2 separate regions of the Homo sapiens genome follow, and region 2 is linked to region 1. Evidence: fine-mapped expression QTL. Tissue or cell type: lung. Region 1 holds a variant in brackets; the other region holds the start of a gene. All regions are shown on one strand. Distances are between the middles of the regions.

Evidence for each region. PIP is the estimated chance that this variant, and not a neighbour inherited with it, causes the effect.
Region 2: it holds the start of PRKCI, and the variant in region 1 is fine-mapped to the expression of PRKCI in lung (TOPMed, PIP above 0.99).

The regions. Positions count from the first base shown.
Region 1 is chr3:170,251,031-170,259,137 of GRCh38, reverse strand. The region is part of intron 2 of PRKCI (protein kinase C iota); the gene reads right to left. Among named protein-coding and RNA genes, the nearest start is that of PRKCI, 33 kb to the right of the region's middle. The variant T/C (reference allele first, on the strand shown) is at 3,112.
Region 2 is chr3:170,218,834-170,226,924 of GRCh38, reverse strand. It overlaps PRKCI (protein kinase C iota), which reads right to left and starts at 4,501. Exons shown (of 18, transcript NM_002740.6): 1 at 4,155-4,501. The coding sequence starts at 4,255. RefSeq lists a silencer at 4,141-4,430 and enhancers at 4,611-4,770, 4,781-4,840, 4,911-4,970.

The DNA.
Region 1 (8,107 bases):
AGTTTGGCTCTTGTTGCCCAGGCTGGAGTGCAATGGTGTTATCTTGGCCCACTGCAACCTCCGCCTCCTGGGTTCAAGCGATTCTCCTGCCTCAGCCTTCCAAATAGCTGGGACTACAGAAGTGCACCACCATGCCTGGCTACTGACCACAGTTTAAATTGTCACTGCTATGTGTCTAATGGGAAAGTCTAAAGAGGAGGCTTTCTGTTACCTGTTTCTTTAAAAGAGGAAGTGAAAGTAGTTCCATTGCCACAATACGATTAGTTAGAAGTCTCCATGTAATCATTTTATCAAATTTTTCCTTTCACATGACAGAGCCTCCTCAAAGGAGTCACAGAAATGAAAAGCTACAAAAGTACTGAAGAACAGTTGCACTTGAGCTGCTGTGAAATATAAATGAACAGTTTTAGTAACAGACACACAGAAGTGATGGAAAAAACACCTCCCTTACCCAACTAGCCAGACAACTGAGTCATCCCTGGCGATCAATGAGGTGGCACATCTGCCTGGACTATGGCATTCCTCAGTGAAAAAGTCATTCAGGCCAGGTGTGGTGGCCTGTAATCCCAACAGTTTGCGAGGCCGAGGCAGGCGGGTTGAGGTCAGGAGTTCGAGACCAGCCTGGCCAACATGATGAAAGCCCATCTCCACTAAAAATACAAAAATTAGCCAGGCACAGTGGTGTGTGCCTGCAGTCCCAGCTACTCGGGAGGCTAAGGCAGAAGAATCGCTTGAACCTAGGAAGCAGAGGGTGTAGTGAGTCAAGATTGTGCTACTGAACTCCACCCTGGGCAACAAAGCAAGACTGTCTCAAAAAAAAAAGAAGTCATTTAAAGCCTAGTTTGGACCTGAGCGAGTGAAAGTGAGTCCTTCACTCTGCCATTGATTTGCTAATTCCCATAGTTACTACACACTAGATGCCACCAACCCTATCCAAACCTCAATCACCAGCATACAGCTTGGTCTGCTAATTGAGAAAGAAAAACAAAGTCATTTTTTCCTGGCTACTCAAAGAAAAGAGTGCCTCTCCTTTTTTTTCTCCCACTTGACCACTGCATCCCTACTTCCTTTTATCTTCTCTGAGCTCCTCTGTTCCATTTTTTTCTTTCCTTCTATTTCCTAGCTCTTCTCAGGCAAAGGCGTTTCTGAGTCTCCCTCTCAAAAACCTCTTTCAGGCCAGGTGCAGTGGCTCACACCTGGAATCCCGGCACTTTGGGAGGCCAAGGTGGGTGGATCGCCTGAGGTCAGGAGTTTGAGACCAGCCTGGCCAACATGGTGAAACCCCGTCTCTACGAAAACACAAAAATTAGCTGGGCGTGGTGGCACGTGCCTGTTGTCCCAGCTACTCAGGAGGCTAAGGCAGGCGAATCGCTTGAACCTGGGAGGCGGAGGTTGCAGCGAACCGAGATCACACCATTGCACTCCAGCCTGGGCAACAAGAGCGAGACTTTGTCTCAAAAAAAAAAAAAAAAAAATTCTCTTTCCCATTCAGATTGACACTCCATTCATTCAGTAGCCACAAATCTCAAGAGTAAAACTAGAGACTAAAACTGGAGGAAACAGGTGAGAAGATGAGAAAGGAAAAGGGGCAGGGTTTTTTTTCACTTCATACTTCTCTTTAATATTTTAAAAATCATAAGTTTGTAATCTTTTATAATGAAACAACTTTTTTTCACATAGTGATCATATCCTTTCTCCATGTTCTTACCTTCCACACATTTCTCAAAATGCTGCTGCCAGGTTTTAGCCCAAACACTCCACCAAAACTGCGGTTGCAAAGGTCATGAAACCAGCTGCTGAAACCTATGACATCTTTTCAGTCCTTATTCTAGGTGATCTCTCTTGCAGTCCCTGACAAAGTTGCCCACTATTAAGAAATCCTGTGTCTCGGTTTCTAAAACACTATTCTCTAGGTTCACCACCTGTTCTTTTTAACTGTTTAATCTGGAAAATTTGAAACATATTTCAAAATGTTGTTTTCCCCTATATACCCACCCACTTATTCTCTACCATGGCAGCATTCTAAGAAAATCTCTATAACTCTAGATAAAAACTCCTTAGTATAATCCAAATATTGTTACTAACCTACAAAAACTAACAAGTATCTTCTCTGACCACAATGGAACAAAACTAGAAATCAGTAACAAGATGGACTTTGGGAACTACAAAAACACATGAAAGTTAACAATATGCCCCTTATTAAGCAGGGGGTCAATACAAAATTAAGAAAAAAATTGAAAAATTTCTTGAAAAAAATGAAAATAGAAACACAACTACTACCAAAACCAATGGGATACAGTGAAAGCAGTACTAAGAGGTGAGTTTATAGCAAGCAATAAGTGCCCACATCAAAAAAAGGAGAAAGGCGCTAAATGAACAAACTAATGATGCATCTTAAAGAACAAGAAAAGCGAGAGCAAACCAAACACAAAATTAGTAGAAGAAAAGAAGTAATAAAGATCGGGGCAGAAATGAATGAAATTGAAACAAAACACACAAAAGATCAACAAAATGTAAACTTGATTTTTTTGAAAAGACAAATAGTATCAACAAACCTTTAACCGGACTAAAAATAAAAGATACAAGACCCAAAGAAATCAAATCACAGATGAAAAAGGAGACAATACAACTAATACTGCAGAAACTCAAAGGATCATTAGAGGCTACGATGAGCAACTATATGCCAACAAATCAGAAAGCCTAGAAGAAATGGATAAATTCCTAGACACATACAACCTACCAAGATTGAACCATGAAGAAATCCAAAGCCTGACTAGAGTACTAACAAGTAATGAGATCGAAGCCATAATAAAAAGTCTCTCAGCAAAGAAAAGCCCAGGATCCAATGGCTTCAGTGCCATTTAAAGAAAAACTAATACCAATCCTACTCAAAATATTCCAAAATATGGAGGAGGAGGGAATAGTTTCAAACTCATTCTAAGACCCAGTAATACTCATCAGTATTACTAAAACCAGACAAATATGTCAAAAAGAGAGAAAACTACAGGTCAATATCTCTGATGAACATTGATGCAAAAATCCTCAACAAAACACTAGCAAACTGAATTCAACAACACATTAAAAAGATCATTCATCATGACCAACTGGAAT[T/C]TGTTCCAGGGATGCAAGGATGGTTCAACACATGCAAATCAATCAACGTGATATATCACATGATAGAACAGAATAAAACATGATACAACAGAATAAAGGACAAAAATCATACTATCATTTCAATTGATGCTAAAAAAAGCATTTGGTAAAATTCAACATCCCTTCATGACAAAAATCCAAAAAAAACTGGGGATAGAAGGAACATACCTCAACACGATAAAAGCCATATAAGACAGACCCACACCTAGTATCATACTGAATGGGAGAAAATTGAAAGTCTTTCTCTAAGATTTGGAACAAGACAAGGATGCCCACTTTCACCACTATTATTCAACATAGTAATGGAAGTCCAAGCTAGAGCAATGAGACAAGAGAAAGAAATAAAGGGCATCCAAATTAGAAAAGAAGAAGTCAAATTATCCTTGTTTGCAGATGATATCATCTTATATATTTGGAAAAACCTAAAGACTCCACAAAAAAACTATTAGAACAGATAAACTAATTCAGTAAAGTCGAAGGATATGAAATCACCACACAAAAATCAGTAGCATTTCTATATGCCACAGCAAATAATCTGAAAAAGTAATCAAAAAAGTAATTCCATTTACAGTAACTGCAAATAAAAAAATACCTATGAATAAGTATCACAAAAGAAGTGAAAGATCTCAGCCAGGCGCGGTGGCTCACACCTGTAATCCCTGCACTTTGGGAGGCCGAGGTGGGAGGATCACCTGAGGTCAGGAGTTCGAGACCAGCCTGACTAACATGGAGAAACCTCGTCTCCACTAAAAATACAAAATTAGCCAGGCATGGTGGTGCATCCCTGTAATCCCAGCTACTCGGGAGACTGAGGCAGGAGAACCACTTGAACCCGGGAGGTGGAGGTTGCAGTGAGCTGAGATCGTGCCATTGCACTCCAGCCTGGGCAACAAAAGTGAAACTCTGTCTCAAAAAAAAAAAAAAAAAAAAAAGTGAAAGATCTCTTTCTTTACAATGAAAATCATAAAATACTGATACAAGAAACTGAAGAAGACATACACATTAAAAAAAAAAAAGGAAAGATATTCCATGTTCATGGATTGGAAGAATCAATACTGTTAAAATGTCCATACTACTGAAAGCAATCTACAGATTCAGTGTAATCCCTATCAAAATACCAATAACATTCTTCACAGAAATAGAAAAAAATCATTGTAAATTTATATGGAACCACAAAAGACCCAGAATGGCCAAAGCTAGCCTGAACAAAAAGAACAAAACTGGAGGGATCACATTCTATGCCTTTAAATTATACTACAAACTGTAGTAACCAAAGCAGGATGGTGCTGGCATAAAAACAGACACATAAACCGATGGAACAGAAGAGAGAACCCAGAAATAAATCCATACATCTAGAGTGAACTCATTTTTTACAAAGGTGCCAAGAACATAACACTGGGGAAAAGACAGCCTTCAATAAATAAGACTGTCAATAAATAGTGCTGGGAAAACAAGATATCCACATGCAGAAGAATGAATGAAACTAGACCCCTATTTCTCGCCATATACAAAAATCAAATCAAAATGAATTAAAGACTTAAATCCAAAACCTCAAACTATGCAACTACTAAAAGAAAAAACTGTGGAAACTCTCCATGACACTGGTCCAGGCAAGTAATTCTTGAGTAGCACCCCGCAATCACAGGTAATCAAAGCAAAAATAGGTAAGTGGGATCACATCAACTTAGGTTTCTGCAAAACAAAGCAATCAAAAAAATGAAGAGACAACCCACAGAATGGGAGAAAATATTTGCACACTATGCATCTGACAAAGGATTAATAACCAGAATAGACAAGGAGTTCAAACAACTCAATAGGAAAAAAAAAACCTAATAATCTGATTAAATAATGGGCAAAAGATATGAATAGACATTTTTCCTTTTTTTTTTTTGGAAACGGATCTTGCTCTGTCACCCAGGCTGGAGTGCAGTGGCGTAATCTTGGCTCACTGCAACCTCTGCCTCCTGGGTTCAAGTAGTTCTACTGCCTCGGCCTCCCAAGTAGCTGGGATTGCAGGCACGTGCCACCATGCCCAGCTAATTTTTGTAGTTTTAGTAGAGACAGGGTTTCACCATGTTGGCCTGGCTGGTCTGGAACTCCTGACCTCAAGTGATCCGCCCGCCTCGGCCTCCCAAAGTGGTGGGATTACAAGCGTGAGACACCATCCCTAGCCCTGAATAGACATTTTTTTTTATTTTAGATGGAGTCTTGCTCTGTCGCCCAGGCTGGAGTGCAGTGGCACGATCTCGGCTCACTGCAAGCTCTGCCTCCCAGGTTCATGCCATTCTCTTGCCTCAGCCTCCTGAGTAGCTGGGACTATAGGCACCTGCCACCACGCCCGGCTAATTTTTTGGATTTTTAGTAGAGACGGGGTTTCACCATGTTAGCCAGGATGGTCTCGATTTCCTGACCTCAAGATCTGCCCACCTCAACCTCCCAAAGTGCTGGGATTACAGGCGTGAGCCACTGTGCCCGGCTCCTGAACAGACATTTTTAAAAGGAGACATACAAACGGCAAACAGGTATATGAAAGGGTGTTCAACATCATTGATCATCAGGGAACTGCAAATCAAAACTACATCAAGATATCATCTCATTCCAGTTAAAATGGTTTTTATCCAAAAGAGAGGCAATAACAAATGCTGGAAAGGATATGCAGAAAAGGGAACCCTCACATGCTGTTGGTGGGAATGTACTTTAGTACAGTCACTATGGAGAACAGTATAGAGATTTCTCAGAAAACTAAACACACACCTACCATATGATCCAGAAATCCCACCACTAGATATACACCCAAAAGAAAGGAAATCAGTATATTGAAGAGATATGTACACTCCCATATTTATTGCAGCACTATTCACAATAGCCATGATTTGGAAGCAACTTAAGTGTCTAGCAATACAATGGGAGTACTATTCAGCCACAAAAAAGAATGAGATCCTGTCACTTGCAACAACATGGATGAAACTGGAAGACATTGTGTCAAGTGAAATAAGCCAGATACAGAAAGACAAACCTTATGTTCTCACTCATTTGTGGAAGCTAAAAATTAAAACAGTTGAACTCATGGAGATAGAGAGTAGAATGATAGCTACCAGAAGCTGGGAACGATAGTGGTGGAGAGTGGGTACAAAACTATACTCACACAGAATGAGTAAGATCTAGTATTTGGTTCAAGACCACCCCGGGCAACACAGTGAGACCTCCATCTCTACAAAAAATTTTAAAAAACAGCCAGGAATGGTGGCTCAAGCCTGTAGTCTCAGTAGGCTGAGGCAGGAGGACTGCTTGAGCATGGGAGGTCAAGGCTGCAGTGAGCTGTGATCATGCTACTATACTCCAGCCTGAGCAAGAGTGAGACACTGTCTCAGAAAAAAAAAAAGGTTAGAAAAAGTAAAAAAGAAAAAAAAGATCTAGTACTTGATAGCACAACAGGGTAATTACAGTCAACAAAATTTATTGTATATTTAAAAATAACTAAAAGAGTATAATTGGAATATTTGTAACACAAATAAATGATAAATGCTTGAGGTGATGAATATCCCATTTACGCAACATGATTATGCACTGTATGCCTGCATCAAAATAGCTCATGTACCCCATAAACACATACACCTACTATGTATCCATTAAAATTAAAGTAAAAAATTAACAAAAAAAAGTCTGCCCATTTAAAATTTGGCCAAGTATTTCCAACTGTCCTCCAAAAGAGTTATGACACATACATTCATTCAACCAACAGGGTATCTTTCCTAATTTCTTTTTTTTTTTTTTGAGACGGAGTCTCGCTCTGTCACCCAGGCTGGAGGGCAGTGGCGCAATCTCGGCTCACTGCAAGCTCCGCCTCCCAAGTTCATGCCATTTTCCTGCCTCAGCCTCCCCAGCAGCTGGGACTACAGGCACACGCCGCCACGCCTGGCTAATTTTTGTATTTTTAGTAGAGACAGGGTTTCTCTGTGTTAGCCAGGATGGTATCGATCTCCTGACCTCAGGATCCACCCACCTCGGCCTCCCAAAGTGCTGGGATTACAGGCGTGAGCCACCGCACCCGGCCAATCTTTCCTAATTTCTTTTTTTTTTTTGAGACAGTCTTGTTGTTGCCCAGGCTGGAGTGCAGTGGCGTGATCTCGGCTCACTGCAACCTCCACTTCCTGGGTTCAAGCAATTCTTCTGCCTCAGCCTCCTGAGTAGCTAGGACTACAGGCGCCCACCACCATGCCCAGCTAGTTTTTGTATTTTTAGTAGAGACAGGGTTTCACCATGTTGGCCTGGCTGGTCTTGAACTCCTGACCTCAAGTGATCCACCTGTTTTGGTCTCCCAAAGTGCTGGGATTACAGGTGTGAGCCACCACACCTGGCCCTAATTTCTTAGAGATAATTACTAAATTCTGTATTTTCCAGTCCAATAGGTGAAAAGTAATGTCTCACTTTAATATTTCAAAACTTCTTTAATTATTAGTGATTTTTGAGCCTGTTATTTATGAATTGACTATTTATACCTCATTATGTAGATTTTTCATCTATTTCTTCTTGGCATTTATTGTACAATAGAGATAGTAATCCTTTGTTGTAAATGTTGCAAATATTTTCTCTCAGTTGTTACTATTCCTGTATACAACATTAGGAAAAGTCTTCTCTTTCCAAACTTTCTTTTTCAAAATTTTCCTGTTTATTGTTGAGCATTTATTTTTCCTGATGAAATTTTTGTCAGATTTAAAATCCTGTTGGAAATTTGGGAGAAATGTTTTCTTCACAGATTGATATGCAGGGAATTCACTTTGTATAATGTTGCTTTTTCCCAAACCATTCATTCAAGTTTCGTTTTATGACACTCAATTGAGTTTCTTGTTTCTTTATATAGTTTCTTCAAATTTCTCTAAGGTTTATTACTAGATTTTTTTTAAAACCTATTTTTATGTCGCTACTGTGGATTAAATATTTTCTTTGAATATACTTT
Region 2 (8,091 bases), 32 kb after region 1:
GTGTTTGGTTTGGGTTTTTTGGCACCAGGCTAGCATGCTCTATTTTTTTCTCTCTTTGGCCAAGCTATGGATCAGCTGCCCTAGGATTAGGTGCCATGGCTGAAGCTCTAAGACCAATTAGCTAACATCCCCCCAACCCTCAAGATACCACTTGTATTTCCTCAGAACCATTACTAAAGTATATTGCTAAAATAATCTTGCATTTCTTTCAAAAACAAGTCTTGCCAAGACTTGTTCACAGTAAGAAAAATCCTACATACTTCTTCACTGAAGCAGCTATTCCAAATATGCAAAGAGTTAATCTTTTATTTCTAGATGTGCACAGAAGGAATCCTCTGTATTGTTATTACTACTTGACAGCAGCGGTTTAAAAAGAACTTTCACAAGCTTTCTGCAAAAATTTCCATACATATATAATGTAAAGAAATGAGCAGTCCAGATGTTGCCTTGTTAAAGTCTATCCCATAATAGCAAGTAATTTTATATAAGGATAAGCACATACATTGACAGTTTATCACTAATTAATGAAACCTGTTTCTCTTCCTCCAAACTACTAGCACTAGGTAATAACTGAAGGCCCCTCACTGAAAAGCTTCCTTGCTAGGAAAAGACGGGTGCAGGCCATGAGAAAGGCATCTAAGTAAGATGTGGTGTCCAATAAAATTGAATTTTCAGTGCTATTAATCTCTTGCTTAAAAACTAGATGTAAATTGGCTGGGCAAGATGGCTCATTCCTGTAATCCCAACACTTTGGGAGACCGAGGTGGGTGGATCACTTGAGGTCAGAAGTTGGGAGACCAACCTGGCCAACATGGTGAAAACCCGTCTCTACTAAAATACAAAAATTAGCTGGGCGTGGTGGTGGGCGCCTGTAGTCCCACCTACTCGGGAGGCAGCCGCAGGAGAATCCCTTGAACCTGGGAGGCGGAGGTTGCAATGAGCCGAGATCACGCCACTGCACTCCAGCCCAGGTGACAGAGCGAGACTCCATCTCCAAAAAAATAAATAAATAAAATAAAATAAAATAAAAATTAGAAAAAAATTAAATGTTATTAGATCTAGAGAGATTACACGTTTTCACTGAGATCAAGCTTAACAGAATAATAACACTATACACATCTTTGAAAAGAGAGGGCAATTTTTTCACTAAAAAAAATGCTGGCTATTAAATGAGTCAACATTCACTGGAAAGAAATATTGTTAGAAAAGGGTAGTGGAGCCAGGTACAGTGGCTCACACCTGTAATCCCAGCACTTTGAGAGGCTGAGGCAGGAGGATCACTTGAGCCCAGGAGTTTGGGATTAGCCTGGGCAACACGGTGAGACCTTGTCTCTATTTAAAAAAAAAAAAAAGAAAAGAAAAGTGTAGAGGGATAGAGGAAATGCTATGTAATAATGGCCCTTCAGAAGATTGGAGAGAAAAGAAAACTTTTTCAAATGCAGAATGTTCTCACATTTCTTGGTATAAAGGAAGGATTTTCTATTTTAAAATCAGGTAGGTGTTCTAGTTAGCCAACCTGTTTATTAACTATCCTTGTCCGTGACTCATTTTAGCTTCATCTATATTAATGAGCAGCTGACTATGTAATACCACAATCATCAGTTTAGACTATACAAACACATAATCTTAACATCTAATTTCAGAGGACAGGAATTTGGTACAATTTAGAGTGCTGATATTGTCTTTAAATGAGGCTTGAAATGAAGGTACCATTAGAAAGCTTTCATTGAGCAAAGACCAGTATACAATGGGCAAGAGGTTATTTGCGCCGCAGCAAAATTTCACAGATTTTAAAAGACAATGTTACCTTGAATGTCTTGGAAAAATTGCAGTCAAACACTAAAGAAGCTGTATGTCCTTATTCTCTTCTTTTTAATAACTGGAGCAATAAGCCAAGATAATTTGCTATCTAAATTCATGAAGTACAGCAAGACTTTGATTTCTTCTCAAAGGAGTTTACAATGATTTTCATTTACTAACTGGGCCTATTTACATGTGTCAAACTAATACAAATGGGAAAATAGAAGCACTAATTTCTTACCTTTCATAGACTCATTGGAGAAGATGATCTCAATTAATAAGAATTTATTGAAAGCCTTAGGGCCAGGCGCAGTGGCTCATGCCTGTAATCCCAGCAATTTGGGAAGCCAAGACGAGCGCATCATTTGAGGCCAGGAGTTCAAGACATGCCTGGCCAATATGGTGAAACCCCGTCTCTACTAAAAATACAAAAATTAGCCGGGTGTGGTGGCACATGCCTGTAATCCCAGCTACTCAGAAGGCTGAGGCAGGCGAATTGCTTGAACCCGGGAGGCGGAGAATGCAGTGAGCCGAGATTGTGCCACTGCACTCCAGCATGGGTAACAGAGTAAGACCCTGTCTCAAAAACAAACAAACAAAAATAAAATAAAAGAATAAAGTGAAACATCTCATTCATCAAATTACAGGTAAGGGTTTAAAAAAAAAAAAGCAAAGGAAGCTTTTTTCTCACCTTGCAAAGTTCATGGCTGACCATCCTCAAGTCAAAACAGCTCTTGTGACAACTACAAACTTTAAAAAATATCCACACGTTTCTTGGTACTGATTTAAAATAAAAACCTCCTTAATCAGTTTTACCTGCTTAAACACAAAGTTATCATACTGTCCAATATAACTCCAATAAACTACTCCTGCATACAGTCAAGCTAATAATAAACAGAGGCCAGAGGCTTCATGGCAGCAAATTTAAAAGTCCTTACATCAAGGACAAAAAACCAAACACCGCATGTTCTCACTCACAGATGGGAATTGAACAATGAGAACACATGGACACAGGAAGGGGAACATCACACCCTGGGGACTGTTGTGGGGTGGGGGGAGGGGGGAGGGATACCATTAGGAGATATACCTAATGTAAATGACGAGTTAATGGGTGCAGCACACCAGTATGGCACATGTATACACATGTAACTAACCTGCACATTGTGCACATGTACCCTAAAACTTAAAGTATAATAATAAAAAAAAAAGTCCTTACATCAAATCAATACAACATTTAGGGGCTCAGATTTTCTTTGAAATCAAAACAAGAGAGGTAGTTTGAGAGTTTGCTATCTTCACTGATCCTCTCAGGAATGTAAAAGTATGCATTAAAATTTCAACCTAGCACTGCTTGAGTTTTTTAAAGCAATTTACTTCTACCTGGACAAGCAGTAAGGCAAGCCAAAGTAGCTGGGTTTTCTGTGACTTCTCAGTCTCCAACCTTTATGGTCACACTAACATTTCACGTTTCTAATGCTCCTAAACATAATTATCTCAAAAAAAAATTCAAACCACAACTGAATTTAAAGGAAGGGGGGCACTTTGCGTCACTGATAGAAAATGATTTAACACAATGAACTTAGAACTGGGTTTTTTCTTGTAACCATAGTAAGGGAGTGAAGATCAGAGAATTTAAAACTGTAACTAGGCTAGTCTCCTCACCTTGCAGTATCTCACCCTATCGGGTAGTCGTTGAAACAACACTGAGAAAGAAAGGCTCACAAAATTTTGATTTACACACATGCAACTTAATCTTGACGACACGTAAGTACCCACTGCACGTCCCTGAAAACGCATCGACTTGATTCTTAAATACAACCCCTATGTCTAATATACTGGCAGTGCAGATACACTACGTGAACACAACGGGGATGGAGGTATATCTCAGAGAACCAGAGGCGTTAGGCCTGCTGGTAATCAAAACGGACAGCTAACTGAAGAAGTCCCGTTTTCTATCCCCACAGCAAACTGAGTTAACTAAGGCATCACTTGGAATCCTCAACTCGCAACCCCAAATACACCCAGACTTAAGGATGCAAGGCCCCTACAAAGCTCTCAGGAGGCGAGTCTCTCGTCCACACCAGGTGCACCTACTCTAACCCTAGCTTCCTTCTCGGACCCTACTCTGGCCCCTCGGCTCCCCGCACCGCCATACCTGGGGGCGCCCCCAGTACTGCATCCCCTTGCTTCGCCCCCACCCCTATCACTTCGTCACTCACCCTGAGTCACCGGAGCCGCCCGCCCGCCCAGCCCAATCCGCCCACAACACCTCCAGCCCCTCACCCTCCCCTCCTCCAGGCCGAGTGGAGCCGGCCTGTCCCCTCCCGCCCACCGCCCTGTCCCAGGACACTCACCCGCGGTAGTAGGCTTTCACCCGGACCTGGTGGGAATGGTCCCCGCTGCCGCCGCCTGCGACCGTGTGGGACATGGTGCTGCTGTCCCTCTGGGTCGGCATCTCCTCACTCCCCCGCCTCAACGCTGGAGGCCGGGGGTGCGGGGGGGCGCTTCGGGCGCCGTGGGGGACTCCGCCGCCTGCGCTTGCCGGAGAACCGCGGCCGTCCGCCCACCTACCTGCCCACCTCGCCCGCAGCGCCGACCCAAGGGTCGCCTCGCCGGAGCAGCCGGAACCGCGCGGCTCCTCCCACTGCCCGTAGGCGCCGCCGCCTCTACAGCCGCCCGGGCCCAAGACACCTCCTGCGTCGGTCCCTCCCACTTCGCTCGCTCCAAAGGCCCACATTCCGGGGTAGGGCGGGCGCAACCATCCAGCCAGCTCAAGGAGCCTCAATACCGGGCTGAACCATCCTTACGGGGGCAGAGAAAGGGGACAGAGGGAATGGGAGACGCTGATCATGGCATCAAACACGCCGAGAGGGGTGCTTTCACGCGAGCTGTGAAAGAGACAATGACCAGCTCTAGATCACTAAAGTCTCTTCCCTGCAGGGACAATGGTAGGGACAAATTCTACGACACCTCACCCTAGCCTCGCAACTTGGTCACGTCTGCGGTCGGCCGACTTGGCACCCGGGATAGATTTGCGTGCAGGTTTCTGGGATTTGGAGTCCTCATAGGATTCTGGGACTTGAGGTTCCTTGCGCGTAGGGTGCCGCGCCTTCCCGCTGGTGAAGTCTGTCTCTCCAGCGTGCTCCCTGGAGCTGTCGGGGTGGAAAACCTGGATCCAGCTTGGGCATCTGAAGGTCCTGGAAATGACTGGGCTTCCTCACGTTCTAGACTTTATTAACTGATGAAGTCTCCCTTCTTCTAATTGCATAAATCGTCTGAATTATACATGTCTTTTGGGGGAACAAGAATTTGGTTACCTGCTCAGCATAACCTCTTTTATGGAAATAATTTAATAACATATGTAACAAATATAATAAAGGAAGAAACTCAACCAGAAAATATGATGAAAAACCGATTTTTCTTCTTTGGGGGCCCCCATATCTAGGCCCTTGTAGACTGCCCTTGCATGGAACAAGAGCCCAATGAATACTTACCCAATCAAGTCAGTCAATCCAAGAGCATTTCATTCTGTAAAAACTGGCTTACCAAAGATTAGAAAGAATCGTCCTTGGCCGGGCGCGGTGGCTCAAGCCTGTAATCCCAGCACTTTGGGAGGCCGAGGCGGGCGGATCACAAGGTCAGGAGATCGAGACCATCCTGGCTAACACGGTGAAACCCCGTCTCTACTAAAAACACAAAAAATTAGCCGGGCGTGGTGGCGGGCGCCTGTAGTCCCAGCTACTCGGGAGGCTAAGGCAGGAGAATGGCGTGAACCAGGGAGGCGGAGGTTGCAGTGAGCCAAGACTGTGCCACTGCACTCCAGCCTGGGCGACAGAGCAAGACTCTGTCTCAAAAAAAAAAAAAAAAAAAAAAAAAAAGAATCGCTCTTGTAACCTAGTCTTTGACTTTCCTAGGATCTTGGCTCTGACACATAATTTACACTGCAACTACAGGTAGCATGAATCCAGCCCCTGCAGCAGTCCTGGTGCTGAAAGAGTTGGAATAATCAAAGAAATAGCTTTCTTTACGATGATAAAATAGGCTTGGGGGACTGAGTCATCAGTTATGTGTGACACTTCAGCGTGGTACGACATCCTCCAACTGCTACAGACTTGGATTATATACTCTTACTAAAAATTCCCCTTGAGTCAGGCAAAGTGCTACATGCCTGTAGTCCCAGCCTTTGAGAGGCTGAGGCTGGAGGATCACTTGAGCCCAGGAGTTCAAGGCCAGCCTGAGCAACATGGTGAGACCCCATCTCTTAAACAAACAAAAAAATCCCATTGAAAAACTTGGTATCAGGTTTTTCAGTAATTGGAGACCTGCATCAGCAAGTTTAATACGGAGCGATTAATTATGGAATATATTATAAAATATACGGGCACCTGTAATCCCAGCTACTCCGGAGGCTGAGGCACGAGAATCGCTTAAACCCAGGAGGCAGAGGTTGCTGTGAGCCTCTGAGACTGCACCACTGCACTCCAGCGAGACTCCGTCCCTGGGCAACACAATGCACAGTGAGATCCCGTCTCATTTTTTTAAAAAAAGATAATTCACATGCCATACAACTTACTCATTTAAAGTGTAAAATTTGATAGTTTTAAGTATCTTCACAAAGTTTTGCAACCATCACCTCTACCTAAATCCAGAGTATTTTCAGCACCCTGAAAGTAACTGCATATCCATTAGCAGTTACTCCCCACTCTCCTCAACCTCTGGCAACCAATAATATATTTTCTGTTGCTATGAGTTTTTCTATTCTGAACATCGCTAGTAGCTGGGACTACAGGCATGTGCCACCACACCCTGCTAAATTTTGTGTTTTTTGTAGCGCCGGGGTTTTGCCATGTTGTCCAGGCTGGTCTCAATCTCCTGGACTGAAGCCATCTGCCTGCCTCAGCCTCCCAAAGTGCTGAGATTACAGGTGTAAGCCACCATACCCAGTGAAGGTTTCAGTTTTTTTTAATGTCCTTGCCAATACTTGGTTTTTTTCCCATCTTCTTTATCATAACCATCCTAGTGGTTGTGAAGTGGTATCTCATTACAGTTTTGATGTACATCTCCCTAATGACTAATGATGTTGGGTATGTTTTCGTGTTTTTATTGGCCATTTATATATCTTCTTGGAGAACTATCTATTCAGATCCTTTAATCATTTTTAAATTGGGTTGTCTTTTTTCATTGAGTTGTAAGAGTTCTCTCTTTTCTTTTTTTTTTCTTCAAGACAAGATCTTGCTCTGTTGCACAGACTGGAGTGCATGGCATGATCACAGCTCTCCAACTCCTGGGCTCAAGCGATCCTTCCACTTCAGCCTACTGAGTAGCTAGGCCCATAGGCATATGCCACCACACCCAGCTAATTTGTTTTTCTCGTTTTTGTAGAGACTAGGTCTTCCTATAATGTCAAGGCTGATCTTCAACTCCTGGGCTCAAGTGATCTTCCCACCTTGACTTCCCAAAGTGCTAAGATTATAGGTGTGAGCCACCATGCCTGGCCAGAGCTCTTTATATATTCTGGAAATACATCTCTTATTAGATTATTTGCAAATATTTTCTCCCACTCTGTGCATTATCTTTTCATTTTTTTAATCTTTTCATATTTTTGATGGTATTATTTGCAGCATAAAAATTTTTAATTTTCACGAGGTCTAATTTATTTTGTTGTTGTCACGTATGGTTTTTGTTTGTTTTACTGTGTGCCAGACTATATGTTATATATGTTTTTAGTGTCATGTCTAAGAGGGCTTTGTGTAATCTAAGATCATGAAGATTTACACCTATATTTCCTTCTAGAAGTTTTATAGTTTAAACTCTTACTTTTTAGCTTATGATCCATTTTGGGTTAATTTTTGTGTCTAATGTAAGTGGTCCAAATTGATTTCTTTGCATGTGGATATTCAGTTATCCCACCATCATTTGTTGAAAAGACTATTTTTCTCCCATTTAATTGTTTGCACAATTGTCAAAAATCAAATGACCAAAATTTAAGGGTTTATTCCTGGATTTTAAATTCTATTCTATTGATTGATTTGTCTATCCTTTGACAATAATCACAGTGTCTTCATTACTGTAGTTTTTTAGTAACTTTTAAAACAAGGAAGTGTGAGTCTTACAACTTTTTTTTTTTTCAAGAGTGTCTTGGCTATTCTGGATCCCTTACATTTTCATGTGAATTTTAGGATCAACTTGTCAATTTCTTTAAGAAAGCCAGCTGAGATTTTGATAACGATTGCCTTGAATCTGTGAATCAGTTTGTGTGGTTTTTGTCATGTTAACAGTATTAAACCTTCC